Linked DNA regions of Homo sapiens. The protein of the gene in region 1 purifies or fractionates together with the protein of each later gene. This does not show direct contact. Each region holds a gene or a part of one and is shown on either strand. Other genes may lie near its edges. The genes, in order: MAGEA10, FAM216A, PKN1, CCDC106, ERI1, YEATS2 and PHF8.

Region 1 (4,020 bases):
GCTGCTCTGTGGTGTCCCACAGCTCTTGACCTCTTGCTCTCCCTGTCCCCTGAGAACCTGAAGAAGGAAGTGAGAGATGGCTCCTCAGGATGCAGCCGGCAGAGGCCAAGGCTCCAGGACTGACAGTAGGGTAGGTGGAGCTGATGCAGTGGGGTCCACTTTGTCCTGGAGCAGGTGGGGCCCTTGGTACACATTCAGGGCATGCACCTCACCTTGACTCCTGGCACTGTCTGGGCCCTTTCTGCTCTGTGACCTGAAAACACTGCCTTAGACCAAGGCCTCACCTCACAGTCCCTGGAGCTCCTGAAAGAGGAATTGAGGGGCCCTCAGGGTTCAGGCTGCAAGCACAGCCCCAGCCTCCCAGTGTTGTCAGGAGGGTGGGCTGGACTCTGTGAGTTCCCCACTACCCTGGGGTGGGGAGCCTCTGTGCTCACGTGGGGCTCTCACCTTTCTCCTGGAAAAGCCTAGACCCTGCTCCTTTGCTGGTCTAAGAAACTCTCAGATCAAAAGCTTACATCCCTGATACGAAATAGAAGACATGAGGGGACCCACATCTGGCCACAACTGCAGAGGTCCTCCCAGAAAAGACAGCAAGAGGTGGCCATATTCAGCTGGGTCCATGTGTACTGGGGTGAGGAGCCTGCTTGGTCCTCTTCTTGATGCCTGATACGACCTGGGACCCTCCCTTTGTTGATCTGAGGCCACTTCCTTAAACCAAGGTCCTACCTCCAGGAGACATGGAAAGAGGAAGTGAGGGGAGTCCATCTACCCCCAGTTCCCCATGAATTCCCGTGGCTGACAGAAGGGGTAGGGTGGGGCTGAGTCCTGTGCGTTTGGAGAATGGTGTCCCCTCAGTCCTCACCTTGACTCCTGGCAGGGTCTGGGACCCTCCCTCTGCTGACCCGAGTGCAGCTCCCTTAGACCAACACCTCTCCCTCCCAGAGACCAGTGATCCTTGTATAAGACAGGGAGACTCAGCGGACAGCCCTGACTGGGTTCTCCAGAGTGACAGTAGGGTCATGGCAGATTTCTGTGGGGACCCCATCTGTGTTATGGGCTGGGGGTACCCTCAGATTTCCCTCAGGTTCCTTACCTGGACTCTTGTCAGATCCTGCGACCCACTGTGTCTGTAGAAAAGAGGGGTTCCCTGTGTTGACTTGAGTCACCCTCTGAGAGCAAGGTTCTCACCTCCCTGAGATTCCAAAACAAAAGTAAGAAGGAGCCACATCCTGTCATCCCTGTGGGGTGTCCAGGGCTGATATCTCCCCTTTACACCAAAACTCCATTTCCCTGAGGGTTCCTCATCTTCCTGCCTGTGGTAAAATTGAGCTTGCCACTTAGTGCCAATCCTGATCAGGTCCCCTCAGAGCTAAGAACAGGGGACAGCCAGACTCTGTGACATCCCTTCTTTCTGGGCTGCAGGTACCTCCAGTCCTCACTAAGGGGGCACCCCTTGGGTCCTGCAGATTCTGGGACTCCTCCCTCTGTTGACCAAGTGTGGAACCCTGTAATAACTTCTTAGCAACCCTCAGACCAAGGTCCTCACCTCCCTGAGACCCGGCAGGCAGAAGTGGGGAGGGGCACCACACGATCACACCTGCATGGGATTCCCAAAGCTGACAGAAGGAGCAGACATTTGGCGGGGGGGGGGGGGGGGGTGGTGGGCAGGGGAGGGGGACAAGACGGGGACTTCCTTTATTTGGGTGTCCTCCAGGTATTCAGATTTACTCCCGACAGGGCCCAGCCCTTTCCCTCCTGCTGAATCGTGTATGGGTCTTGCACGCCAAAGCCACCATCTCCCTGGGATCCCCGGTGAGAAAGTGGGGGCCACTTCTCTTCCTCACCGTCCTGCCTGGGGTTCCAGAGCTGATAAGAGGGACAGATTTCCTAGTTCTGAGATGCGGGGATCTGCTGAGTCCTCCCTCAGGGCTCTGGGACTCCTCCCTCTGCTGACCTGAGGCTCCACTCCTCAGACCATAGCCCTCTCCTCATTGACACCCCAAAGGCACAGCAAAGACACATCACATGGGCCACCGTGCCTGAAACCACCCAGGGCTGAGGTCCCCACTGATCTGGACTCCAAGGTCCCTTGAGTCCTTTCTCTTCTTCCTCCCCTTGACTCTTGGCTGGGTTGTTCTCCTCTACCACGCCCCGCCGCAGACCTGAGTCACCGTCCCTTGGATTCCTCAGGCCGAGTGAAGAGACATCTCGGTCTGAGACAGAGGTGGGGTGGGCACCCTGTCCTGGGATCCCTTCATGCCTCCCTCATTTCCCAGCAGGGCCCGGGCCTTCCCTCTGCTCCCCTGAAGCCGCATTCTTGGTACCAATATCCCCTTCCCTACGTCAGCCTCAGATGCCGACGTCAGAATTTGCGTTCCTGGTCGCCATGACCAGGGCTTCCCAGGGCCGACATCAGGGGCAGAGCCCTCCCTGAGCGTCCCGACATTGATGCTGGCAGAACCTAGGCGCGGCTCCCGCCGAACCAGCCGGGCCCTGGTCACACCAAGCTCTGACTCCCAGAGTCCCCTGCGGCTTAAGCGGCGGGAGAGAGTGGGGGCGGGGGTGGGGGGGGGGTGACAGCCCAGCCTGAGAAGTCTGCCCTCAGGTGGTCCAGAGCTGGCAGCAGAGGCAGCGCTGTATTATTTAGGGCTTTCTATCTGGGTTGGGGGCGTCCTCAGTCCTCCCTCAGCCTCTCACCTTGCCTCCTCACAGAGCCTGGGCCCGCTCTCTTCAGCCGATCTCAAGCCTGTCCCTCAGAACGAGAACCTCGCTTCTCTCTGATCCCCGAGGCGTAAGTTAGTGGCGTCACATCCGGTCCCCGGGGCTTCCCTGGGTTGACAGCAGGGGCGGAGTGGATTCTGCCGGAACTGGGGTGGGAGTTGGGGTGGGAGTGAGGGTGGGAGTCCGGGTGGGGTGGGGTACGGGTGAGGATGGGGTTGGGGCAGGGGTGGTGGTGAAGATGAGTGTGGGGAGGGGCGTGGAGGTGGGAACTGGGATGGGGATCTTGGGGCTGTGGGTCGTGGTGGGGGTGGGGGTGGGGTCTTTCAGTCATCCCTCAGTGTCTCGACCTTGATGCCTGGAAAAGCCTGGACCCCTGTTTTGTGCTGAGGATGTCTTCTCCCCTTAAACCAGGTCTCTTGACTCGGAGTCTTCCAAGGTGGCAGTGAGGGGAGGGTTGTGGTAGGGGTGACAACATTGCCAGGGTCTTCCAGGGCTGACAAGAGGGGCTCAGCTGGATTCTGTGGCCCCTTTGTGAGGGGTGGGTGGACCCTCGGTCCTCACTCAGGAGGGTCTTCCTCCTGGCTTTTGTCTCTTTGATGAAGTGATGGGTGGGAGATGCTCAGTTTCCGTCACCTCTGATCATTTGCCCAGCTGCATCCCTTGCAGAGCATGGGTGCGGTTCCCAGGCCAGATGGTCCCTGGGGAGCTGCAACACCCGTGATTGTAATGACCTATGGGAGAAGACGCACACCTTCCCAACGGGGCTCTTCCCAAGCCACAAGTAGACTTGGCAAACTTTTTGTCCTAAAGGGTATATTTTCTACAAGAAAGAGGCTGAGCATCGGGGTGTGGAGAGGTCCTGCTGTTTTGAGTTTAGCTGATATTTTATAGTCCAATGCAGTGATGTCTGGTTTTCTAACCCTCATTCCTAGTAAAAATATGTGTTTTAAATGTCTGCCAAGTGTATATTGAATACATATATAACATTTCATGAAAGAATACCTACCTTACGCTGTGTGGTTCACTGCTTATTCTATTTCTGGTCTATTCTTTATATTCTATTATAATAATTTTTCTCTTTTTTTCTGAGCAAGAAAATTTAATATAAAGAATTATTAACTTGTAGCAGAGGATCAACTAAGACCAGTCGTCACTGTGGTGGTTTTAGGTGGTTAGCAGCATAGACTCCGGAGTCATACTCCCTCAATCAACCCCGTCTTTCCTGCTGTCCTGATATCACTCCAGAGCTACTGGGCTACTGGCATCGTGGTATGAAGTGTTGCCTCAGATTGTGCAATA
Region 2 (3,500 bases), on another chromosome or scaffold:
GCACTTTGGGAGGCTGAGGCGGGCAGATCACTTGAGGTCAGGAGACCAGCCTGGCCAACATGGCAAAACCCTGTCTCTACTAAAAATATATAAAAGTTAGCCAGGTGTGGTGGCGTACACCTGTAGTCCCAGCTACTCAGGAGGCTGAGGCAGGAGAATCTCTTGAACCCAGGAGGTGGAGGTTGCAGTGAGCCGAGATCGCAACACTGCACTCCAGCCTGGGTGACAGAGTGAGACTCTGTCTCAAAAAAAAAAAAAGTATATAGTTAGTTGAATTCAATAAGCACATTTTTGTTTCAATATTATTAATAACAGGCTATTTCAGTTTTGTATTAAACTTTAAATTTAGTTATTTCTTCAAGATTTTGGCAAGTTGGATACTACAGGTAAGGACTAACTAGTTGACCAAGAAATGGAAAATCATTTGGAAATTGTATTATGACCCTTGAAACATAACTTATAATCTGTAATAATATGAATGCCAATTTAAGATTTTTAAAAGTTTTTTGTTTTGGAAATCCTTTTTCAAGTTGTAAACAGAGGCTATTTATATAAGAATATGAATTGTGTCCTTAATAAACAATATTTCTGAGATGCATATTATATTTTGGACCAACACTTAATTTCTCAATAGCTTGATAACATTTCTTTACAGAAAATGAAGCACTTAAAAATAAATAGGCTGGGCATGGTGGCTCATGCCTGTATAACCCCAGTACCTTGGGAGGCTGAGGCAGGCAGATCACCTGAGGTTGGGAGTCGAGACCAAGCCTGGGCAACATGGTGAAACCCGTCTCTACTAAAAAAAAAAAAAAACCACACACACAAAATACTTAGCCAGGCATGGTGTCACACCCCTGTAATCCCAGCTACTTGGGAGGCTGAGGCAGAAGAATCACTTGAACCTGGCAGGCAGAGGTTGCAGTGAGCTGAGTTACTGCAACTGCACTCCAGCCTGGGTGACAGAGTGAGACTGACTCAAAAGAAAAAGAAAAATAGTATGGCAGTGCCTCGAACATTTAAACATAGAATTGCCATATAATCTAATAATTCCACTTCTGATCCAGCAATTCCAAAAGAACTGAAAGCAGGGACTCAAACAGATTATTTATCCATGCTCATAGCAGCATTACTTCATAATAGCCAAAAAGTGGAAGAAACCCAAGTATCCATCAACAGGTGAATATATAAACAAAATGTGGTATATACAAACAATGGAATATTATTTAGCTTTAAAAAAATAAGAGAATTCAGACACATGGTACAATATGGATGAACCCTGAAGACATGCTAAGTGAAATAAGCCAGTCACAAAGGACAAATATTGTATGATTTAACTTTTATGAGATACCTAGGAAAATCAAATATATACGGAGTGAAAGAATGGAGGTTGCAAGAGGTCAGGGGAAAGGAGGTATATAGGGAATTAGTGGTTTTTTATTTTGTTTTTAAATTTTCTTTTAGAGACAAAAAAAACTAAAGTTAATTTTATGTTGCCCAGGCTGGTCTCAAACTCCTGGGCTCCAGCGATCCTCCAGCCCTAGCCTCCCAAAGTGCTGGGATTACACACACGAGCCACTGCACCCACCTGAGAGTTAGTGTTTTATAGGTACGGAGTTTTAGTTTGGGAAGATGAAAACTTTCTGGAAATGGATGGTGGTAGTGGTTGCACAACAGTGTGAATATACTTAATGCCACTGAAATGTACACTTAAAAATGATTAAAATGGGCCAGGTGCATTGGCTCATGCCTATACATCCCAGCACTTTGGGAGGCTGAGGCGGGCAGATCACTTGAGTCCAGGAGTTTGAGACCAGCCTGGCCTACATGGTGAAACCCTTAGGCTGGGCGTGGTGGCTCACACCTTTAATCCCAGCACTTTGGGAGGCCGAGGCGGGCGGATCACGAGGTCAGGAGATCGAGACCATCCTGGCTAACATGGTGAAACCCCGTCTCTAGAAAAATATAAAAAAATTAGCCAAGCATGGTGGCAGGCGCCTGTAGTCCCAGCTACTCAGGAGGCTGAGGCAGGAGAATGGCGTGAACCCGGGAGGTGGAGCTTGCAGTGAGCCAAGATCGTGCCACTGCACTCCGGACTGGGCAACAGAGTGAGACTCCATCTCAAAAAAAAAAAAAAAAAAAAAAAAAAAATTAGCTAGGCGTGGTGGGGGTGCACCTGTAATCCCAGCTACTCAGGAGGCTGAGGCAGGAGAATCGCTTGAACTCAGGAGGCAGCGGTTGCAGTGAGCCGAGATCGAGCCATTGCACTCCAGCCTGGGCAACAAGAGCGAAACTCCATCTCAAAGAAAAAAAAAAAGATTAAAATAGTAAATTTTATATTATGTATATTTTACCACAAATAAATAGTTAACCAACCCAAGAACTTTTGAATATACTGCTTGGACTATATGCCCTCAAACAAAAACAACTCTAAGCAAATACTGATCTCTAATTAACTACTAGGCTTTTTTTTGTTGTTTTGTTTTTTGTTTTTTTTGGGTTTTTTTTTAGATGGAGCCTTGCTCTGTCGCCAGGCTGGAGTGCAGTGGCGCGATCTCTGCTCACTGCAACCTCCAACTCCCTGGTTCAAGTGATTCTCCTGCCTCAGTCTCCCAAGTAGCTGGGATTACAGACACGCGCCACCATGCCCAGCTAATTTTTTGTATTTTTAGTAGAGACGGGGTTTCATCATGTTGGCCAGAATGGTCTCAATCTCCTGACCTCGTGATCCACCTACCTCAGCCTTCCAAAGTGCTGGAATTACAGGCGTGAGCCACTGCGCCCAGCCTACTAGGCTTCTTTTTTTTTTTTTTCAGAAGCATGTGTTAGCACTTTAGAAACTACTTTTTTATACATCTTAGGACGAAGCAAATAATATATTGTAGTTAATAAGCAGGTCTCACACTTTTGGAGACGAGTTACCTATTAATATGGAAAGAGGAAAGCACAGAATAAACCCTGTTTGTTGGATTGGAATTTGGAGTTAGTAGAAATATTGAAATAGATATGTATGGGTATGTATGTGCTCACAGGTAAATGCACACACATTTCTTTCCCAGCACTGTCCTCGGAGAAAGTCTAGAAGCAATGAAAGTATATTATAAATAAGCACACCTAGCACCCAGATCTTGGTTTCTACGTACTCTTCTCTACTTTAAATATATAATTTTTTTTTTTTTTTGAGACAGAGTCTCGCTCTGTTGCCCAGGCTCACTGCAAGCTCCGCCTCCCAGGTTCACGCCATTCTCCTGCCTCAGCCTCCCGAGTAGCTGGGACTACAGGCGCCAGCCACGACGCCCGGCTAATTTTTTGTATTTTTAGTAGAGACGGGGGTTTCACCGTGTTAGCCAGGATGGTCTCGATCTCTTAACCTCGTGATCCACCCGCCTCGGCCTCCCAAAGTGCTGGGATTACAGACGTGAGCCACCGCGCCCGGCCTTAAATATATACAATTTTTTAAAAAGGGGCTCTATGTTAGTTTCATTTTGCTGCCATAACAA
Region 3 (3,500 bases), on another chromosome or scaffold:
CTATATATTATCTATCAACCAATCTATTTTTCCATGCATCCGTCTCTATTATCTGTCAGTCATCTTATCCATCAATCTTATGTATGCATCATCCATCCATCTATCCATCCCTGTATATTTCTCTGTATATATATCTACCCATTCCTCTCTCTATCTCTATCTATCCCTCTCTATATCTATCTGTGCCTCTGTTTTTCTCTATATAGCTATATCTATCTATCCATCCATCTATATTATCTATCAACTAATCTATCTTTCCGTCTACCCATCTGTCTATATTATCTATCCATCTATATTATCTATCTATCATCTTATCCATCCATCCATTTATCTTATCTATGCTCATCCCTCCATCCATCCATCTCTGTATATTCCTCTATCTCTATTTATATCCACCCATTCCTGTCTCTGTCTCTATCTATCCCTCTCTGTATCTATCTGTGTCTCTCTCTCTTTTTCTCTCGATAGCTGTATCTATCTATCCATCCATCTATCCATGCATCCTTCTCTTTCTATGAATCCCTTTCTCTATCAGTCCCTCTCTCTTTCTCTATCTGTAACTACCCTTCCGTCCATGCCCCTCTCTATCTACCTGCGTCTATATCTGTCTCTTTCTGTGTCTATTTATCCATCTCTCTATATCCATATCCCTAAGCAGAGGTTCTCCCCTGGTCTGACCATCAAGCACCAGTGAAAGAAAGGGGCGGGGCCAGGCACAGTGGCTCACACCTGTAATCCCAGCACTTTGGGAGGCTGAGGCGGGCAGATCACTAAGTCAGGAGTTCGAGACTAGCCTGGTCAACATGGTGAAACCCCGTCTCTACTGAAAATAGAAAAATTAGCCGGGTGTGGTAGCAGGCGCCTGTAATCCCAGCTACGCGGGAGGCTGAGGCAGGAGAATCAGTTGAACCTGGGAGATGAAGGTTGCAGTGAGCCGAGATCGCATCATTGCACTCCAGCCTGGGCAACAACAGCGAAACTCTGTCTCAAAAAAAAAAAAAAGAAAGAAAGAAAGGGGCGTGGAGAAGAGCTGACTCCAGATGGCAGAGGTTTAAAATTGTTCTCCCATTCAGAACACAGCCCAAACCAAATGGAAAGTGATGGTGGGTGGCCTGGGGGACACATTCTAAAGCGTTTCTCCTTGCCTTCAAGGTCTCTCTGTGGCATTCTATTTTGTTTTTATGCCTATACAGAAGCATTCTTCCATAGAACTTTTCTGCAGCTCTGGCCGGGCGCTGTGGCTCACGCCTGTAATCCCAATACTTCGGGAGGCTGAGGCGGATGGATCATTTGAGGTCAGGAGTTTGAGACCAGCCTGGCCAACATGGTGAAACCCTGTCTTTACTAAAAATACAAAAATTCGGCTGGGTGCGGTGGCTCACGCCTGTCATCCCAGCACTTTGGGAGGGTAGGCAGGCAGATCACCTGAGGTCAGGAGTTCAAGACCAGCCTGGCCAACGTGGAAAAACCTAGTCTCTACTAAAAATACAAAAATCAGCCAGGTGTGGTGGCGCACGCCTGTAATCCCAGTTACTTGGGAGGCTGAGGCAGGAGAATCACTTGAACCTGGGAGGCGGAGGTTGTAGTGAGCCAAGATCGCACCACTGTACTCCAGCCTGGGCAACAGAGTGAGACTGTGTCTCAAAAAAAAAAAAAAAGAAATTAGCCGGGCTTGGTGGTGGGTGCCTGTAATCCCAGCTGCTCGGGAGACTGAGGCAGGAGAATCTCTAGAGCCTGGGAGGTGGAGGTTGTGGTGAGCCCAGATTGCGCCACTGCACTCCAGCCTGGGCAACAGAGTCTCAAAGAAAAAAGGAACTTTCTGCAGCTCTGTTGTCGATGCACCCACAGTAGCTGAGTTCTGTTGTAGATGGAAATGTTCTCTATCTGAAGTGTGACCAGTGTGACCAGGGAACCAAAGTTTTAATTTCGCTGACATTTTCACTAATTTAAATCGCCACATGTGACAACCATACCAGACACTGCAGTTCTGTGACTTCAGCACCTTCTAGAAGTTGTATTGGAGTTGGGAGAATTCAACTTGACAGGTGGCTTCCATAGATGGGTGGGCACCAGCATTGCCTGGGGGCTTGTTGAAATACTGAGTGCTTTAGGGCCGGGCACGGTGGCTCGCGCCTGTAATCCCAGCACTTTGGGAGGCCAAAGTGGGCAGATCGCTTGAGCCCAGGAGTTCAGGACCAGCCTGGCCAACATGGTGAAACTCCGTCTCTACAAAAATACAACAATTTGCCAGGCATGGGGGTGCGTGCCTGTAGTCCCAGCTACTCAGGAGGCTGAGGTGGGAGGATCTCTTGAGCCCGGGAGGTGGAGGCTGCAGTGAGCCGAGATCGGACTACTCATATGTGCATATATATATGTGTGTATATATATATATGTGTGTGTGTATATATATATATATATAGAGAGAGAGAGAGAGCATGCGCGCGCTTCCTCCACTCCATGTTTCTGGCTCAGTAGGTCAAACCTGCGTTTCTAGAAAGTTCCCAGGTGTTGCTGCTACTGCAGGTCTGGGGTCTGGGAGCACATGTGGGGAATGGGGTGTGGGATGGCGTGGCGTCCGTTTGCAGTCGCTGTCTGTCAGTCTTGTTGGGTCAGATGCTCTCCCCACCTCTAGAAAGGGACCCGGTTGTTTGCTTCTTGCTTTTCCAAGACGTCCCTTCAGGAGGGGAGCCATGGGTTGCACCGATGACCTCTTCATTGTCACCTGGTACTCGGGTTGAATCTGATGCCACGTGACCAGAACCCCACTTGGGCGCGCACACCTGTGCTCCCAGGGGCTTCCTTACCAAGCTGTCTGCCTGCAGGTGGGCAGAGGGTCCTCACATTTTGGTCCCTTCCCCCAGGTCACCTTCCGCAACCCTGTCATTGAGAGGATTCCTCGGCTCCGACGGCAGAAGAAAATTTTCTCCAAGCAGCAAGGTGAGAGGGTGCTCCAGGCTTCCTGGGGGAGAGGCCAGGGGTCCTGGGAGTGTCATGGAGGGTGACGCCTGCCCCGTCCCCCCAGGGAAGGCGTTCCAGCGTGCTAGGCAGATGAACATCGATGTCGCCACGTGGGTGCGGCTGCTCCGGAGGCTCATCCCCAATGCCACGGGCACAGGCACCTTTAGCCCTGGGGCTTCTCCAGGATCCGAGGCCCGGACCACGGGGTAAGGAAGGAGGGCCCCATGGTCCCGGCTGCCCCTTGAAGCCTGCGAGGGTCCTGGGTCCCAGACACACCCTCCTCTCGTCTGCTGCAGTGACATATCGGTGGAGAAGCTGAACCTCGGCACTGACTCGGACAGCTCACCTCAGAAGAGCTCGCGGGATCCTCCTTCCAGCCCATCGAGCCTGGTGAGGGTCCCCCCTTCTATCCCCGTAGGCCTGGCCTGGGCAGCGTCAGGGGTCCTGCTCCAGGCTCAGAGACCACTAGGAACTTCCCTGGAGCCACGCAGCATGTCTGTGGCAGAACCAGGGCCCAGATCTCTATGCTGGTTAAAACGTGT
Region 4 (4,189 bases), on another chromosome or scaffold:
TGTGACTATGCGCGGTTCCCATAGGGGAGGGAGAAATTTCTGGGGACTGGGCGGGACCTCTGGAGAGTAGCCTCTGGAAACCCAGGAGGCAGGCAAGGCCTTGGCTGGAGTCGGGGGGTCAGACCGAGAGAAATCAGGGGCCCTGGGTCCAGCAGGCTGGGTCCCACCTCCATCTAGACAGAGGGAGCCGGCAGGCGGAGGCCCAGACACAGATTCCTCTAGAAGGCGGGTTAGGGGAGGGCTCTGGTGCCAGGGTCCCCACTGGGAAAGTGCCGAAGCCGCAGGGCCAAACTGTCTGTGCAAAGGAGTCAGTCACCCAGGATGGAACCATCAGTGAGAGGAGACAGTGGCAGGCCCAAGGGCAGCCAGAGGTGGTTTGTTCCCGAGCAGAGGGAAAGCCAGATCCCCAGATGCTGGGCTTCCAGTAACAGAGACACCACAAGACCATAGCCCCCTTGCCTAGGATTTTTGGGGAAAGGGTTGAATTCACAAAGAGAGATGTGGGAGCTTTTGAGGGGTCTTCCCAGCCAAGGAGCTAGCAAGGCTGAGATGAGGGTAGGTGGGGTAGAGTGTGGGTTCTCCAGGCCATGGGCTGTCGGGCAAACGGCCTGACCATCCGGGGAAGAGGATGGGGCTGGGGTCCAAAATGTATTAAACAGGGCACAGGGTCCCACCAGTCAAGAGAAGACGCTAGCTGTGAACTGGCTGGGGCTGGGTGCTGCTGTGGGAGCTATCTGGGCTGCTTCTGGCCATGAATTATAGCAGAGCAAGGTATGTGGGTGGGGACTGCCCAGGAATCAGGCAGGGTTTGAGGGACAGCACCTGCTGGGGTCACCACCCAAAAAGGCCCACAAAGGAAGGGACTTAATGTCTTTGATGGGGAAGGAGTGCTCATTAACCAAGGATGGGACAGGGTGGGTGGGAAGATGGCCCCTGGTGTCACAGAGGGGAGGGGGGGACAGGAGGAGGCCGGATGGCTGGACTCTTGGATCTTGGAGAAGACAGGGACGGGAGGAGGAGCAGGGGCCCCCTGAGGAAACCCAAAGAACTAGGGTGGGCCTCTTGGCCAAAGAGATGAAGGAAGGTCCCCCTAGGAGTCAGAAGAGAGGGGCTCTCAGGTGCCAGGGTCCCTGAAGTCACCATGGGCCAAGGAAGCAGATGGCAGGGCACTGGAGGCTGATGGGATTTGGGGAGCTGACGGAGAAGGCAGGAGGACGGGCCCCAGTAGACAGTTCATGGGGATGAGGCCCTGGAATCAAGTGAGGAGGCAGCTGGGCCTGGGGGCCCAAAACAGGCAGGGGACTAGCAGATAGGGCCAACATGGCAGGTCCCACCCAGCCAGCCAAACAGTGGAGCCTTGAGTCTGGGTGAGCGGGTACCCAGTAGCGGGACAGGGAGGCATGTGGATCAGAGCACCCCACACACACCTGCCTCCATCCGAGCAGAAGAGATGAATTTGTCCAGCTGGCACCGCAGGAAGTCCCTCTCTTCCTCCAGGTCCTCGATGCGCTTCTGCAGCCAGGAGTTCCTCTCCAGAGCCATGTGCAGCTGGGTCTTGACGCTGTTCATCAGAGCCAGGGCGGAGGACGCAGCCTCCGGAGGCTCTAGGGACACAGCGAGGGTGGGGGGACCAGGTCACACCCTGGGACTCAGGGCTTGGCTTCCCAGCTGACTCCAGTCCCTCCACACCCCCTCAGCTCACCCTCGAAGTTTCTCCGAGAGGGGCTCAGACTGTAAAAGATCTGTGGGTCTAGGTGGGGTGCCTCATCGAAGGGAATGGAGATCTCGAAGGTCTCATCGTCCTTCACTGGAGAGGAGAGGCCCCGGGTTACCCCAGAGAATTCCCCGGGCCTCTCAGGCCACCCCCCAACCACGGCAGCCTGGAGCCGACCGCACTGGGACCCAGGGTAGGGAAGGGGACCCAGCTTCCTCACTTGTCCGCCTCCGACTGCTCCGGTCATTCATGGCGCGGCTTCCTACGGACCCCAGCAGCCGAGGGCCTCAGGGGCACTGGACAGAAACGGCAGCCACAAATGGAGAGACGCAGATGGACTGGAGGGTCCATCCTGGGGGAGGTGAAGTGAGACAGGAGGGACCTTCTGGCCTGGACCCCTGGTCTGAGGGAGGAGGGAGCCTGGACCCCAGGACTGAGGCAAAACGCGCCTGGGCTTCAAACTCCTGGGCTCCTGGAGTCAGGGGCAGGGGGCCCAGCCGCCTAGGTCCTGGGGGAGAAGTGAGCTGGGGACGTGGGCTCCTGGGTATCGAAGGAAAAGGAAGCTGAAGCCCTAAATTGCTGGGTGCCCCAAGGGGTCGCCTGACCAGGGACACCTAGCCTGAAGGGGAAGGACCCTCTCTCATCGCGGGCCACTGCCAGGCCTAAGGAAGAGGCAGGTGCAGGGGGAAACTGCCCCAACTTCCCAGGGTAGGAGGAGGTCCAGCCCGTGCGCGCTGCCTCCTCTACCTTCGGGGCCCCCACACCCCTCCCCCGCACTCGCGTGGGCGGGCGGACCGTCCCCCGGTGGTGGGGGCTGGGCGCGTGCGCAGTACGGGGAAAGGTCACGCGTGGGGGTGCGCCCCCCCCGCCCCCGCCCTTTGTCCCGCGGGTGGGAGGGGGAGCGGTCGTGGAACGATTCCAGCGGGAACATGCACTAGGGCGGGGGTGCAAACGCGGCCACCATCCCCCGCCCGCGGGTGCCCGGGGTCCGAGGGGCCGAGGCCCCCCGCGCTCACCCACCCGCTCGCGGAATCCGGCTCGGGGACCGACGGCGGCGGCGCCCATGCCCGGCGCCGGGGAGCGTCTGCAAAGTGTCACGGGGAGCCGAGGGAAGCGCCCACCCACCCGCGAACAGGCGGGGCGGCAGGGGAGCGTGTCGTGGAACTGAGCGACGGAACGGGCAGGGACGCGGGGACTCGCCCAGTCGGGCCAGGCTAGCGCCCCTCGTTGAAGAGTCCCCGGGTCCAGGTGAGGCCCGCCGTTTGCGGCAGAAGCAGAGGGTCTGCACTTGCGCGATAGCCCCTTACAGCACTCCCCCGCCCTCCCCGAAGCTCAGGCAGGGAACATCACGAAATTCCCATCCTGGAGAGCTGGCGAGTCTCCGGGGGTCCCCGGATTGGGTGGCGGTGTGCCCAATGGGCCCAGAAGGCAGGAGAGTGTTTGAGACACCGAGAAAGTTGGAGCGAAAGGAGAATCTACTTTTAACGCTCTCTCAGGAACTAGCCAGCGCGGACCCCTCAGAGCTCCCCTACCTCCTACAGCCAGACCCCAAGGTTCTCAGGGATGTGGGGGCCAAAATCGGGGGAGTTACCCCTCTCCCGGAAAATGAGGGCCAGGAACACGCCACCCCCATCCCCATGTTGGTAATTAAGAGCTGGCTTTGGAGCAAAGCTAGATTCCAGTCCTGACTGTTCCTGCTCCTCCCCAGCCTGTTAACTCACCTGCAAAATGGGGAAATTACAAGCCCTTCTAAATTTATTGTGAGGATGCAGTGATGCGACACACAGAAGCTCAGCCCAGCACCTGGCCATCGTCAGGGCTGAAGAGAGGAGCGCTGCTGGTATTATTTGAGGTCAGATGGTGGGGTATGATGGCAGCCTCTGGGAGGCTCTTTCCCACTCTGGGGAGTATGAACGGAAGATTTGTTCTTCCTCCCAAAAAAACAGGTCGGAAGAGCAAATGAGGCCTAGCACAGTGCCTGGCACAAAATAGGCAAGAAAAATGAATGAATAAGCAGATGTTTATTAAGCTTCAGGCTCAGCTCCACCTGCCTCTCCTGTTCACCAGAAGCATCCAAGCTCTGGACTGTGGCCAGCCCTTATAAGAGCAAGGTCTTAACCCGATGGAGGGAGAATCTAAATGTCTGCACCGCCTGCAAAGCTGTGACCATGATCCTCCCCTCCCCACTTTACAGATTAACTGCAGCCTGGTCCAAAAATTCCAGGGGGAGCCATCTGCCCTAGATTGGTCTTTTCCAAACTACAGGTTCATGGGTGGAGAATTCAATAGAATAGGATGAAATCAGCAGTTTAAAAAAATATTTAGCCGGGCGTGGTGGTGCACACCTGTAATCCCAGCTACTCAGGAGGCTGAGGCAGGAGAATCGCTTAAACCGGGGAGGTGGAGGTTGCAGTGAGCCGAGATCGCACCACGCTCCAGCCTGGGCGACACAGCGAGACTCCGTCTCAAATAGTA
Region 5 (4,124 bases), on another chromosome or scaffold:
ACAAAATCAGATGAGCTAGTTTATCCAAGATCAGGTGAGTCAGTTTATCAATCTGGGAGGTGCCAGCTGATCCATCAAGTGCAGGGCCTGCAAAATATCTCAAGCACTGATCTTAGATTTTACAATAGTGATATTATCCCCAGGAGCAATTTGGAGAGGGTTAGAATCTTGTAGCCTTCAGCTGCATGAGTCCTAAATCATAATTTCTAATCTTTCGGCTAATTTACTAGTCCTACAAAAGCAGTCTAGTCTCAAGAAGAGGGTTTATTTTGAGAAAGGGCTATCACCTTTGTTTTAAACTATAAGCTATACACTAAGTTCCTCCCAGTGTTAGTTTGGCCTACGCCTAGGAATGAATAAGGATAGCCTGGAGGTTAAAAGCAAGATGGAGTTGGTTAGGTCTGATCTCTTTCACTGTCTCAATGATAATTTTGCAATGGCAGTTTCACATCTGAGGTTTCTATTGCGTGTTCCATGGTATTCAATAATCTCTTCACTCTGGTTGCTGGGAGCTCAAATGATTCCCAGTTCTGTGTGACCTCTCACCATTGTTTGGTGTACTGCTCCCCAGTAATTGTTCTTTCCTGGCCTTGTGGAGTTTCACGTTTTTTATTCAGTTAAAGATTCAAGGTACTCCTAAGCAGATTTCTGAAGCTCTTTTTCCATGTAATTCCCTCCTCTCCAGAATTCTGCCCTACAAATTCCAACCGACTTGGCCTACCCCAATTTCGTCAACTCCAATCTCTGTCTTTTCAACCCAGGAGATCCTAGGTTTCCATATGATTTCCTTTCATCGCACCACAGACTGGAAATCGCCTCTGGGCAAAAGGGCAGGATGATATACGGCTCCTTTTATTTCTTTTCTCTCAGGTAAAACAGTCCACAGCTGTCCGTTGTCCAATGTCTGAATAGGTGTCTCCTATATTTTGTTCCGTTTTCTAATTGTTTATAGTGGGACACTAAGTCCCGACCCATTTTCTTTTCTTGCCCAGAGTGGAAGTTTTAGGAAACTCCTTATGGAAAATGTGAATTGTTTTATTATTTTTTATGGTCGAAAACATCTTTCTCTATGATATCTTCCCACTCACCCTACTTTTTTCCTTCTCAGGAAACACTGACGGGAACACACGTGCCGGTGCTACCCTCCAGTGACTGGACTAGATCCTTGCGCAACTTCAACCCGCGCTAGCTCCGCCTACGGCCGGCCACGCCCCGTCTTCTCACCGGCGCGCCTCCCTCTTGTTCGTCCTCCCTCCCCCTGTGGACTGCGGCGCTGGCGTTCCGCGCACGCCGGCTCACTGCGCCTGCCCGGCGTGTGGACGCCACACGCTCCCGGAAGTGGGAGGTGGCCGCTGGAGTTTGTGTGGCCGCCGCCGCGGGAACGCGAGCCCGGTAATTTTTCAACGGAGAAAGGCGAGGCTTTCGGGCTCTGCAGAGTGAGAGTTAGCAAGTGTCCGGCTCCAGCAACTCTCCTCTGGCGTGACAGCCGGCATGGAGGATCCACAGAGTAAAGAGCCTGCCGGCGAGGCCGTGGCTCTCGCGCTGCTGGAGTCGCCGCGGCCGGAGGGCGGGGAGGAGCCGCCGCGTCCCAGTCCCGAGGTGAGGAGTCGACCCGCGCCTGGCTGTTGGCGCCAGCTGCCCCGTCCCCAAAGCGCCCTCGGCACCCCTTTCTTCTCAGGTGTCCCGCAGAAGGTGCAGCTGTGCGCCCTTGGACCCCAGCCTCTTCCTCGGTGCCCAGCTCCCTGGCTTTATCCTCGGGTGGGTGTCTTGGAGCCCCCTCAGGGCCGAATCACTCTCTGGGAGGGAGGAAATCGTCAAGACCAGTTCTGTCTACAGTGGGTTAACAGGTTCTAAGAGGGAGTTTTGCTTTAAACTTAATTCTGTGTTCACGGTTGCTGTTGTCACTCCATGTAGCCGTTATGGGTAGTTTGCAAGGCTTTATGTTTTTAAAATCTCACCATATACGCTAGGTATGTCACTTCATGCCTGTTTTTAAAAAAAGAAAAAATTTAAAAAGCACTCACCAGCATCCCTGTCTCTGTACCTGTTAAGTGGAGCTTCGTCTTAGCTGCTTTTGCTCATTAACTGGTGTCTCATATAACCATAGTATAAGATTGAATGAATCATTTTGACATCTCATCGGTTGAACTTAGTTACAGTGGCAAAGTTGTAGAACAGTCTTAAAACTTATTTAACGAATGTTAATTGTTGACTAGCGCTGCGGATTGTAAGTGATTGAATACTAAAATTGATCTTTTCCTAATAATAAACATGTTGAACACTTCGTAAAGCTTCATAAAGTGCGTATTTGCAAGAGGCCTCCTAACTCTTGCTCCTTCCGTCCACAGTCAGTTTCCATCTGGCAGCTAGAATGAGCTTTTCAATAACATGAATTTGGCTTATTCCCCTCCTGAGTCACTTCCATTTGCTGCTCTGCGGGGTCGGGTGCCTGCCTCCCTTGGTAATTGCATCTCACACAGTTTTTTCCCTTTTGTTCCCAGTGCCCCTCGCTGCCTTGTGTTCTTTGACATTGGAAAGAAGGTCTCGTTAAGGATCTCTGTATGTTCCTTTTGCCCTGTGTGCACTTCCTTTGGATCCTTGCAATTATCTTTCTCCTTCTAAGGTTGTTATTTCAAAGAGTACTTGCACATCCCTTCTCTTGTAAAGAACCACTCTTCCACCTGCCTCCCTCTTCAGCCTGAGATACGTTGTCAATCTCATCCTGTAAGTGGGTTTTAAAATAAATTTCGAAGTTTATTTTTAGTAAAAGAAGTGTGTTTGAATATGCTTCTTTATATTTGAAAGTCTTGACACTTTTACAGCTACTTAAGGCCTAGGTCTCTGTTCCAAATTGGCTTTAGTGACGGTAGTAATTGTTAAAAACTTACTGTTGCATGCTCTTTATAGTGATACTTTTTTTTTTTTTTTTTTTTTTTTTTACAAAAAGCCGGTCGTAGTTGCCCTCTCCCGTAGTCCCAGCTACTGGGGAGGCTCAGTGGGGAGGATCACCTGAGCCCATGGGTGGAGGCTGCAGTGAGCTGTGATCGTGCCACTGCACTCCAACCTGGGTGACAGAGTGAGACCCTGTCTCAAAAAATAATAGTAATGATACTTTTTTTTTTTTTTTTTTGGAGACGGAGTTTCGTTCTTGTTGCCCAGTCTGGAGTGCAATGGCATGGTCTCAGCTTACTGCAACCTCCCGCCTCCCGGATTCAAGTGATTCTCGTGCCTCAGCCTCCCTAGTAGCTGGGATTACAGGAACCCACCACCACGCTTGGCTAGTTTTTGTATTTTTAGTAGAGATGGGGTTTCACCATGTTGGCCATGCTGGTCTGGAACTCCTGACCTCAGGTGATCCGCCCACCTCGGCCTCCCAAAGTGCTGGGATTACAGGCAATGAGCCACTGCGCCTGGCCATGATACAGTGTTTTTCAATCTGGGCCAAAGTTTTTTGTTGAATTCAGGTGGTAAATTTCCATTATCTCTAATGCTAGTTGTCTTTGTAAACTAGTAGAAGCTATTGCATATTTATATTTTTAATAAGTAGGTTCAGATTTCATCAGAACTCTCCTTTTGGAAGAACGTCAATCAAGAAAAATTCTAAGTTTTTTTTCAGTGTGCAGATGCAGAGGTTTTCCTTTTCTTTTTTTAAAAGGTAGTACCTAGATTTTTGGCAGCAGAATAATAGCATTTCCAGAACATGTTTTCAAAATGTTCTCTATACAGAAAAAGTTTTATTTGACAAGCAGTTACTTTGTAGCTTACTGTTAAAATGTGTTTTCTTTTTTCTTGCAACAACAGATTGTGTTCCTTTAAAAAAATGCTAAAAATCAAGCTCCGGTACCCTTCCCAATAAGAAGAGGACAGCAATTATAGAATACCTGTCTTTTTGTAAAAGAAAATTTGTAACTCATCTTTAAGTTCAACAACAGTTTTTTTATGTTTTTTTTTTTTTTTTTTGAGAGGGAGTCTCTCTCTGTTGCCCAGGCTGGAGTGCAGCGGCTCAGTCTCGGCTCGCTGCAAGCTCCGCCTCACGGGTTCACGCCATTCTCCTGCCTCAGCCTCCTGAGTAGCTGGGACTACAGGCGCCCGCCCGGCTAATTTTTTGTATTTTTAGTAGAGAC
Region 6 (3,500 bases), on another chromosome or scaffold:
GACTTTTATGTAACTGTAATCCTTTATCTTATACGGTTGCAACATTTTTTTTTTTTTGGCAAGAAGTAGAGGAATTAATTTAAACATATCAATAAGACTCTACACCATCACCTCATCCCAGTGCAGGGAGAACCCTGCCTGAGTACCATGCTTCAAACTCAGAAACACCCACCACAAATACCAAAAGATTTATTGTAGACAATTTTGTTACACAATTATACACATTATGATACACGTTTGAAACATTAACACACGTGGAGACTGCTAAATCATTTAATATTTCTTTTGCAAAAAGATAATTTCTTTAGGCTGTGATACCTGCAATAACCAATCTGTTCTCATTTGGATCAGATCTTTCTCCCTCTGTCCTGGAGATCTCACAGTTCACTTTGCTGAAGCAATCTATCCACTTCCCTATCGACCTTGCTTATAGCAGTTCAGGTATAGACTATTTGAGCCTTATATACTAAACTGTTAAGCCAGTGCGTGCCCTATGCCCTGCTGAGAATAGATTCCTTCTGTACTTGCAGCCCTCAGATGCTGAATTGATCAATCAATTTTTGAGACGGGGTCTCCTCTGTCACCAGGGCTGGAGTGCAGTGGTATGATCTTGGCACACTGCAACCTCCGCCTCCTGGGTTCAAGTGATTCTTCCTGCCTCAGCCTCCCGAGTAGCTGGAATTACAGGCACACACCACCATGCCCAGCTAATTTTCTGTATTTTTAGTAGAGACGGGGTTTCACCATGTTGGTCGGGCTGGTCTCGAACTCCCAACCTCAGGTGACCCACCCACCTCGACCTCCCAGAGTGCTGGGATTACAGGCGTGAGCCACCATGCCCGGCCCAGATGCTCAATTTAAAAGGCAGAGTTTATTCAGTCACTCCCCGCCTTACCTTCCTGACTCAAACATCTACAGGACCCATGAAAACAGGAATTACGTTGCTTGGGTAAGTTTCTCTGACTCTGACTCACAGGTTTCCGATTTTCCTGGAGCAGAATAGAACAGATTTCTGACTGGGCATGCATTCTTTGTTCTGCCTTCCACACAGGCTGTGTTAGGAAGTCTGAGATGGGGCGCCTCCAATAGACCCGGGCACCTGGCAGCGCCACCTTCTCCTGCCTGCCACTCCCTCCCATCGAGGGGGCCTCTGCTTGTGGACACAGACTAATCTCACTGCTTCTGGGCACTGGCATCCTTATTTCTGGGCATGGGCAGTTACTTCTCCAACTTTAAGGCACTCACTGGTATTTCTTTTAAATACTTTTCTTCTTGGGAAAAACTCCTTAACAGAGAAGAGTATATACAATCCACGGATAGGACAGACGACCCCAGAAGAGCCTGCCGGGCGCCGCTCCCCACTGGCCACTCAGCATGGGGTCAGCAGCAGAAGCTCCTGCAGGCCATGCAGATGGCGTGGAACCTGCGATCTGCTTCGCACACATGTGTAACGCTGCTACACTTCTGCCAAGTGTCTGGGACTGGTGCACACAGTCTATTCCTAGCATAGTGAGTTTTCTTGGTTATAATCAAACCTCTTCCTGACTCCTGTTGGGACCTCTCCGTCCCTTGCCACTGCTTTGACAATGGTTCTAGTAATGCTCTCGTGCTCAAAAAAGGAATTCTGCTCAGTCTGCCGTCTCTCAGGCCTTCATGGTTCTTGGCTCTAGGTATGGCCTCTTCCTATAGCTGACTCACTTGGGCTCAGAGTACAGCCCCTCCACACCAAGGCCAGGCATGGGAGAGAACCACCTGCTGAAGGCTGAAGCCCAATCTCTCTTCAGGGTAACTGCTGGAGCTACTGGTAACTCCAGCCCACAAAATGGGTGAAATCTCTAGCCTGCCACTCATTTTCTACCTCCTGGGGAGGCGGGCCCAAGGAGCCCCCTTAAGCACACCCAGGGAGAAGGGCCTGAGGCACACGGCCTGGCCCGCTCTCGTGGGGCCTTTACAAAGACTGCAGAAACGCTGGCCGACAAAGCACGGATCCACTGACAGCCTCACTCCACACTCAGGAAACAAACTCCTGTCCTAGGAGGATTTCATCTGGAGTGCAGCGTGCTGGTGACACGTGGGAACAGGCAGCGGCAAAGGTTGGGTAGCCATGACATGCCGAGTCACACTGGAAACCACCTCCTTCCCGAGCAGCAGGGTCCTCAGTTACAGCTTCGCTGTGCCTTCAAAGCCTGCTTCTCCAGGGCACCTCACTCCGCTCACTGGTCCTCATTCAATATTCCCATGTGTTTGTTTGTGAGGAAGTCCAGAAAAGGAATGTTGCAAATGGCCTGGTGAATATTACTCACTGTAATTTCTTTGGGAATCCTGGTCCAAAAAACAAAGGGTGTTACCAGGTGAAATTCTCTCACGTATATCTCATCATTTATTCACTTAACTCATCACAGGGACCATCCCAGGCAGAGGCCCCGTGGAGAGGGCTCCTGAGCCACAGACATAGCTTAGGGCCACTCTGGGGTGAGGACTGCCTTCCTGTCATAGGCATGAGAAGGATGTCAACAAGTTGGTTGAATAATTAGGAAAAAAGATTCTGAGAACTGAGAAAAGAGAAAGAAAACAAAGCGGATGGCAGAACGGAATGACACATTTGTGAGTGAGTCTCAGCAGACCGAAAGCTGAGTCAAAGCACCACAAAACTCTGGGACCTTATTTCCCATCTCCTAGAAAGACGGGAGACGGAGCCACGCCAGGCCAGGCGTGATGTTAATCGTTCCATCAAAAGCACCTAAGTCACTCTACCCCTCCAGGACAGGGAGCACAGAGGTAAGCAGGGGCCACAGGAGGCCCTGGCTCACTTGTGGGTCCAAGCAGGACAGTGGGCAGCAGGACCGGAACTCTTGGTTCCCCTTCCTTTTCTCTAAAGACGCCTATGTTGTCTGATATATTCCTGTGAAGTTTCATCTACTATTCCTCTGATTTAGGCCCTTCATGTCCTCAGGCACTTTGCTACAATTTTATAAATCTGTGACAGCCTTTAGCATAATGCAATAAAATAATATTTGTTTCCTCCGAAAGAAAAGCAGATGTGGCCTATCTACCATCCTTTCAGGGCCTAGGAACAGACTGAAACTCAGTGTCTTAATCAAAGACAACGAGTCAGCAAAGAGCAGTGGCGAGCCCAGGGGCCTCAGAGCCAATGAGACCTGAGTCGGAAGTCCAGGTCTACACTGTATTTGCTGGGTAAGCTGGGTAAAATTACCTTTCAAAGCCCGGTTTCCTGATTTTTAAAAAGAGAATAATAGTTCTGCAATGAAAAACAAATTAGGTAATATATGCAACGCTTGGCCCTCGTGTCTGACATGTAATGGACACTGTTATCTTTAATTGCAAAGCTAATATTTATTCAACCCTGTAATAAAACAGAGTCCTAGGTGTCTGTGAAGTAATGAGGAGGATATAAACCTCTGAGCAAAGCTGAGTGAGCTTTCACAACCATGAGGTTCTCTAAAAATGACAAAGCAGACCCTTGAGCTCATCTGGCTCTA
Region 7 (3,500 bases), about 98 Mb from region 1:
GACTACTATGTGTGAGGCTGTGTGTCTGGTAGTTCCATTGCCCTAGCAGGGCACATAGATCTAAGGAAAGTGCGATGGGTTCCTTCCCCTGCCCCCCAAACAAACACACACATATATGTACAGTGTCAGTGGAGAGAAGCTTTGAGTGTAAGGCCATTCTAGGGACTGATGAGGGGACAAGAGAGTCTTCCACAGTCCCTGAGACTACTTGGTGCAGAACCTATCTCTTTACTCCAGGTTCTGACAAAGAGATTGATGTGATTGATGTGACCCGCCAGGCTGACTGCAAGATGAAGCTTGGTGATTTTGTGAAATACTATTACAGCGGGAAGAGGGAGAAAGTCCTCAATGTCATTAGTTTGGAATTCTCTGATACCAGGTAAGAGGTGCAGGAATAACAAAAAAACCTGACAAAGTGCCTGAAACTTGTGTGATATATCTAGTGTATATTCGTGTTTCTCTCTCTTTTTTTTTTTTTTTGAGACAGAGTCTTGCTCTGTCGCCCAGGCTGGAGTACAGTGGCACGATCTTGGCTCACTGCAACCTCCGCCTCTTGGGTTCAAGCAATTCTCCTGCCTCAGCCTCCTGAGTAGCTAGGATTACAGGCGCCCGCCACCATGCCTGGCTAATTTTTGTATGTTTAGTAGAGATGGGGTTTCACCATGTTGGCCAGGCTGGTCTCGAACTCCCTACCTCAGGTGATCTGCCCGCCTTGGCCTCCCAAAGTACTAGGATTACAGGCATGAGCCACCGCACCTTGCCTCGTGTTCCTTTCTCTTCTTCCTGGTGGTTTCTTCCTTTGGGATGGCGAGCTGGGTTATATTTTCTAGGGTAGCTGCTCACGTTGTAACAGTTGAGTCATATTTCTCCTCCACAGTTTCTAGCATTGGATAGATTACATAGTAGCTATTTTAATTAATTTTTGTCTCCTTTTTCAAGACCTTAGGACACCCTTCTTTGACCTTTTCCTCCTATATACAACAGTGCCACAGTCACTGTGTAACTGGTGGGATAGGTCCTCAGTTCCTGGAAATAGATTTACTAAAATTACCCCCATGTAGGTTTCTTACATTTAAAAAGAAAAAGAGAAACCTATTTACCTTTAAATGATTCTATCTGGACTCACACACACAGTAGATACGTATATAGTCTTCTCTTTGGGTCAGAAATGTGGGAAATACCAAGAAATCATAATGTATCTTTTTGCCCTTAGGAAACTTACTGTCTGATTATTTACATTTTTAACTTTTAATTTGTAGATTGATAGGAAGTTGCAAAAAAGTGTACAGGGAGGTCCTGTGTACTCTTTAGCCACTTTCCCTCAATGGTAACGTATTATGTAATTACGGTACAATATTAAGACCCTTGCTGTTGTGTTTTTTTTTTTTTTTTTTTTTTGAGACGGAGTTTCGCTCTGTCACCCAGGCTGGAGTGCAGTGGCATGATCTCGGCTCACTGCAAGCTCCGCCTCCCTGGTTCACGCCATTCTCCTGCCTCAGCCTCCCGAGTAGCTGGGACCACAGGCACCTGCGACCACACCCGGCTAATTTTTTATGTTTTTAGTAGAGACGGGGTTTCACTGTGTTAGCCAGGATGGTCTCGATCTCCTGACCTCGTGATCCACCCACCTCGGCCTCCCAAAGCGCTGGGATTACAGGTGTGAGCCACCGCGCCCGGCGCTGTTGTTTTTAAGATGCAAGGTTAAACAACCTGAGAGTGTTTAAAAACTGTATTTGTTTGTTTATACTTCACTTCATCCTGAAAGACTATTCAAGGTAGCTTACAGAGATGTGGAGAAGCCAAAAAAAAAAGAGAGAAAACTAGAACAAAAGTGAAATAAGATTGGGAAATAGAATGCATGTGGTGGGTGCTCAGCACATTTCCCGGTTGGTGGAAATGGACTATAGAGTTTTCAGTGAATTTCCTGAAGGTCAGAACAAAGAGAGGAGTGCAGTATTGTAAGATTTGTGGCTTTACGTAGGATAAAAGCAACAGATGTTTCAGAGAAACATTTCTTTACCTGGAACTGAGCCCTGTGAGGTTGCTCTAGTGGTTTCTCATAAAGAAGACACTATGAGATGGGGATAGTGCAATAACTTCTATAATCCACATGCCAAGTGAGTAGTCTGGAGTGGGGCTGGGGAGTATGAGCATTTAGTGGAGGAAATGAACACCTTTGACTGGAGAAGCCTGTGGAGCTTGGACTTGGGACTTCTGGAGATGAGTAGAATGAGGATACTGACCAGACTTACAGAACAGAAATAAGTGTCCTATGTGCCTTTGGGGATTCTGTGGAGGGAACTTGTTCTCTGACTTATCTGACCCTCACTGAACTGTGGGGTATTTTATTCAGGCCTCAATCTTCTCTTCCTAATCAGCTGACATCTGCTCTCCACCCCTTCCTTGGTAGACTTTCTAACCTTGTGGAGACACCGAAGATTGTTCGAAAGCTGTCATGGGTCGAAAACTTGTGGCCAGAGGAATGTGTCTTTGAGAGACCCAATGTACAGAAGTACTGCCTCATGAGTGTGCGAGATAGCTATACAGACTTTCACATTGACTTTGGTGGCACCTCTGTCTGGTACCATGTACTCAAGGTAGGAATGCGCATGGCTTCTGGAGGCAGCCAGGCCTTGGGCCTCCCTGTACGTGTCACATGGCAGCACAGAAACATTTTGAATCAGTTTGATTTACATTTTGAATAAAAAAAATTTGATTTGGCCGGGCGCGGTGGCTCACGCCTGTAATCCCAGCACTTTGGGAGGCCGAGGCGGGCGGATCACGAGGTCAGGAGATTGAGACCATCCTGGCTAACACGGTGAAACCCCATCTCTACTAAAAATAAAAAAAATTAGCCGGGCTTGGTGGCAGGCGCCTGTAGTCCCAGCTACTTGGGAGGCTGAGGCAGGAGAATGGCATGAACCTGGGAGGTGGAGCTTTCAGTGAGCCGAGATTGTGCCACTGCACTCCAGCCTGGGCGACAGAACGAGATTCCATCTTAAAAAAAAAAATTGATTCAAAAATGTTTGACGAATCAAACGTTTTTGAATAATAGCAGATGCCTGAGGTTTTCCTGGTTGTTACCTTCTTTTTTGTTGTTGTTGAGGCAGAGTAAAAACAAAGATTTTATTTATTTATTTGAGATGGAGTTTTGCTCTGTCACCTAAGATGACAGTTGCCAGTGCTGGACTGCAGTGGCGTGATCTCAGCTCACTGCAACCTCTGCCTCCCGGGTTCAGGCGATTCTTCTGCCTCAGCCTCCCAAGTAGCTAGGATTATAAGCGCCCACCACCACGCCTAGCTAATTTTTGTATTTTTAGTAGAGACGGGGTTTCACCATGTTGGCCAGGCTGGTCTCGAACGCCTGACCTGAAGTGATCTGCTTGCCTCCACCTCCCAAAGTGTTGGGATTACAGTCGTGAGCCACTGCACCCAGCCGTTCTTACCTTCTTAATTGAACCAGTTTATACTCATATCAGCATGTATGGAAATGTCCACAT

What was found.
Region 2: the proteins of MAGEA10 (region 1) and FAM216A purify together in Homo sapiens (affinity purification with mass spectrometry; 5 studies listed by BioGRID and IntAct, with this or other methods). This does not show direct contact.
Region 3: the proteins of MAGEA10 (region 1) and PKN1 purify together in Homo sapiens (affinity purification with mass spectrometry; 4 studies listed by BioGRID and IntAct, with this or other methods). This does not show direct contact.
Region 4: the proteins of MAGEA10 (region 1) and CCDC106 purify together in Homo sapiens (affinity purification with mass spectrometry; 4 studies listed by BioGRID and IntAct, with this or other methods). This does not show direct contact.
Region 5: the proteins of MAGEA10 (region 1) and ERI1 purify together in Homo sapiens (affinity purification with mass spectrometry; 4 studies listed by BioGRID and IntAct, with this or other methods). This does not show direct contact.
Region 6: the proteins of MAGEA10 (region 1) and YEATS2 purify together in Homo sapiens (affinity purification with mass spectrometry; 4 studies listed by BioGRID and IntAct, with this or other methods). This does not show direct contact.
Region 7: the proteins of MAGEA10 (region 1) and PHF8 purify together in Homo sapiens (affinity purification with mass spectrometry; 4 studies listed by BioGRID and IntAct, with this or other methods). This does not show direct contact.

What each region holds. Positions count from the first base shown.
Region 1 is NC_000023.11:152,135,778-152,139,797, forward strand, and holds the start of MAGEA10 (melanoma-associated antigen 10), read right to left. Parts: upstream 2,801-4,020; 5' UTR 2,698-2,800; intron 1,193-2,697; 5' UTR 1,094-1,192; intron 304-1,093; exon of another isoform or gene 213-303; intron 58-212; 5' UTR 1-57. UniProt on the Homo sapiens protein: Not known, though may play a role in embryonal development and tumor transformation or aspects of tumor progression.
Region 2 is NC_000012.12:110,478,845-110,482,344, reverse strand, and holds part of FAM216A (protein FAM216A), read right to left. Parts: intron 1-3,500.
Region 3 is NC_000019.10:14,460,806-14,464,305, forward strand, and holds part of PKN1 (serine/threonine-protein kinase N1), read left to right. Parts: intron 1-2,861; coding exon 2,862-2,937; intron 2,938-3,022; coding exon 3,023-3,164; intron 3,165-3,254; coding exon 3,255-3,348; intron 3,349-3,500. UniProt on the Homo sapiens protein: PKC-related serine/threonine-protein kinase involved in various processes such as regulation of the intermediate filaments of the actin cytoskeleton, cell migration, tumor cell invasion and transcription regulation.
Region 4 is NC_000019.10:55,646,823-55,651,011, reverse strand, and holds the start of CCDC106 (coiled-coil domain-containing protein 106), read right to left. Parts: upstream 2,801-4,189; 5' UTR 1,966-2,800; coding exon 1,935-1,965; intron 1,808-1,934; coding exon 1,703-1,807; intron 1,605-1,702; coding exon 1,428-1,604; intron 1-1,427. UniProt on the Homo sapiens protein: Promotes the degradation of p53/TP53 protein and inhibits its transactivity.
Region 5 is NC_000008.11:9,001,573-9,005,696, forward strand, and holds the start of ERI1 (3'-5' exoribonuclease 1), read left to right. Parts: upstream 1-1,324; 5' UTR 1,325-1,491; coding exon 1,492-1,599; exon of another isoform or gene 1,600-1,758; intron 1,759-2,501; exon of another isoform or gene 2,502-2,724; intron 2,725-4,124. UniProt on the Homo sapiens protein: RNA exonuclease that binds to the 3'-end of histone mRNAs and degrades them, suggesting that it plays an essential role in histone mRNA decay after replication.
Region 6 is NC_000003.12:183,809,297-183,812,796, reverse strand, and holds the end of YEATS2 (YEATS domain-containing protein 2), read right to left. Parts: intron 2,779-3,500; exon of another isoform or gene 2,346-2,778; intron 2,323-2,345; coding exon 2,214-2,322; 3' UTR 173-2,213; downstream 1-172. UniProt on the Homo sapiens protein: Chromatin reader component of the ATAC complex, a complex with histone acetyltransferase activity on histones H3 and H4. YEATS2 specifically recognizes and binds histone H3 crotonylated at 'Lys-27' (H3K27cr).
Region 7 is NC_000023.11:54,013,474-54,016,973, reverse strand, and holds part of PHF8 (histone lysine demethylase PHF8), read left to right. Parts: intron 1-237; coding exon 238-379; intron 380-2,410; coding exon 2,411-2,597; intron 2,598-3,500. UniProt on the Homo sapiens protein: Histone lysine demethylase with selectivity for the di- and monomethyl states that plays a key role cell cycle progression, rDNA transcription and brain development.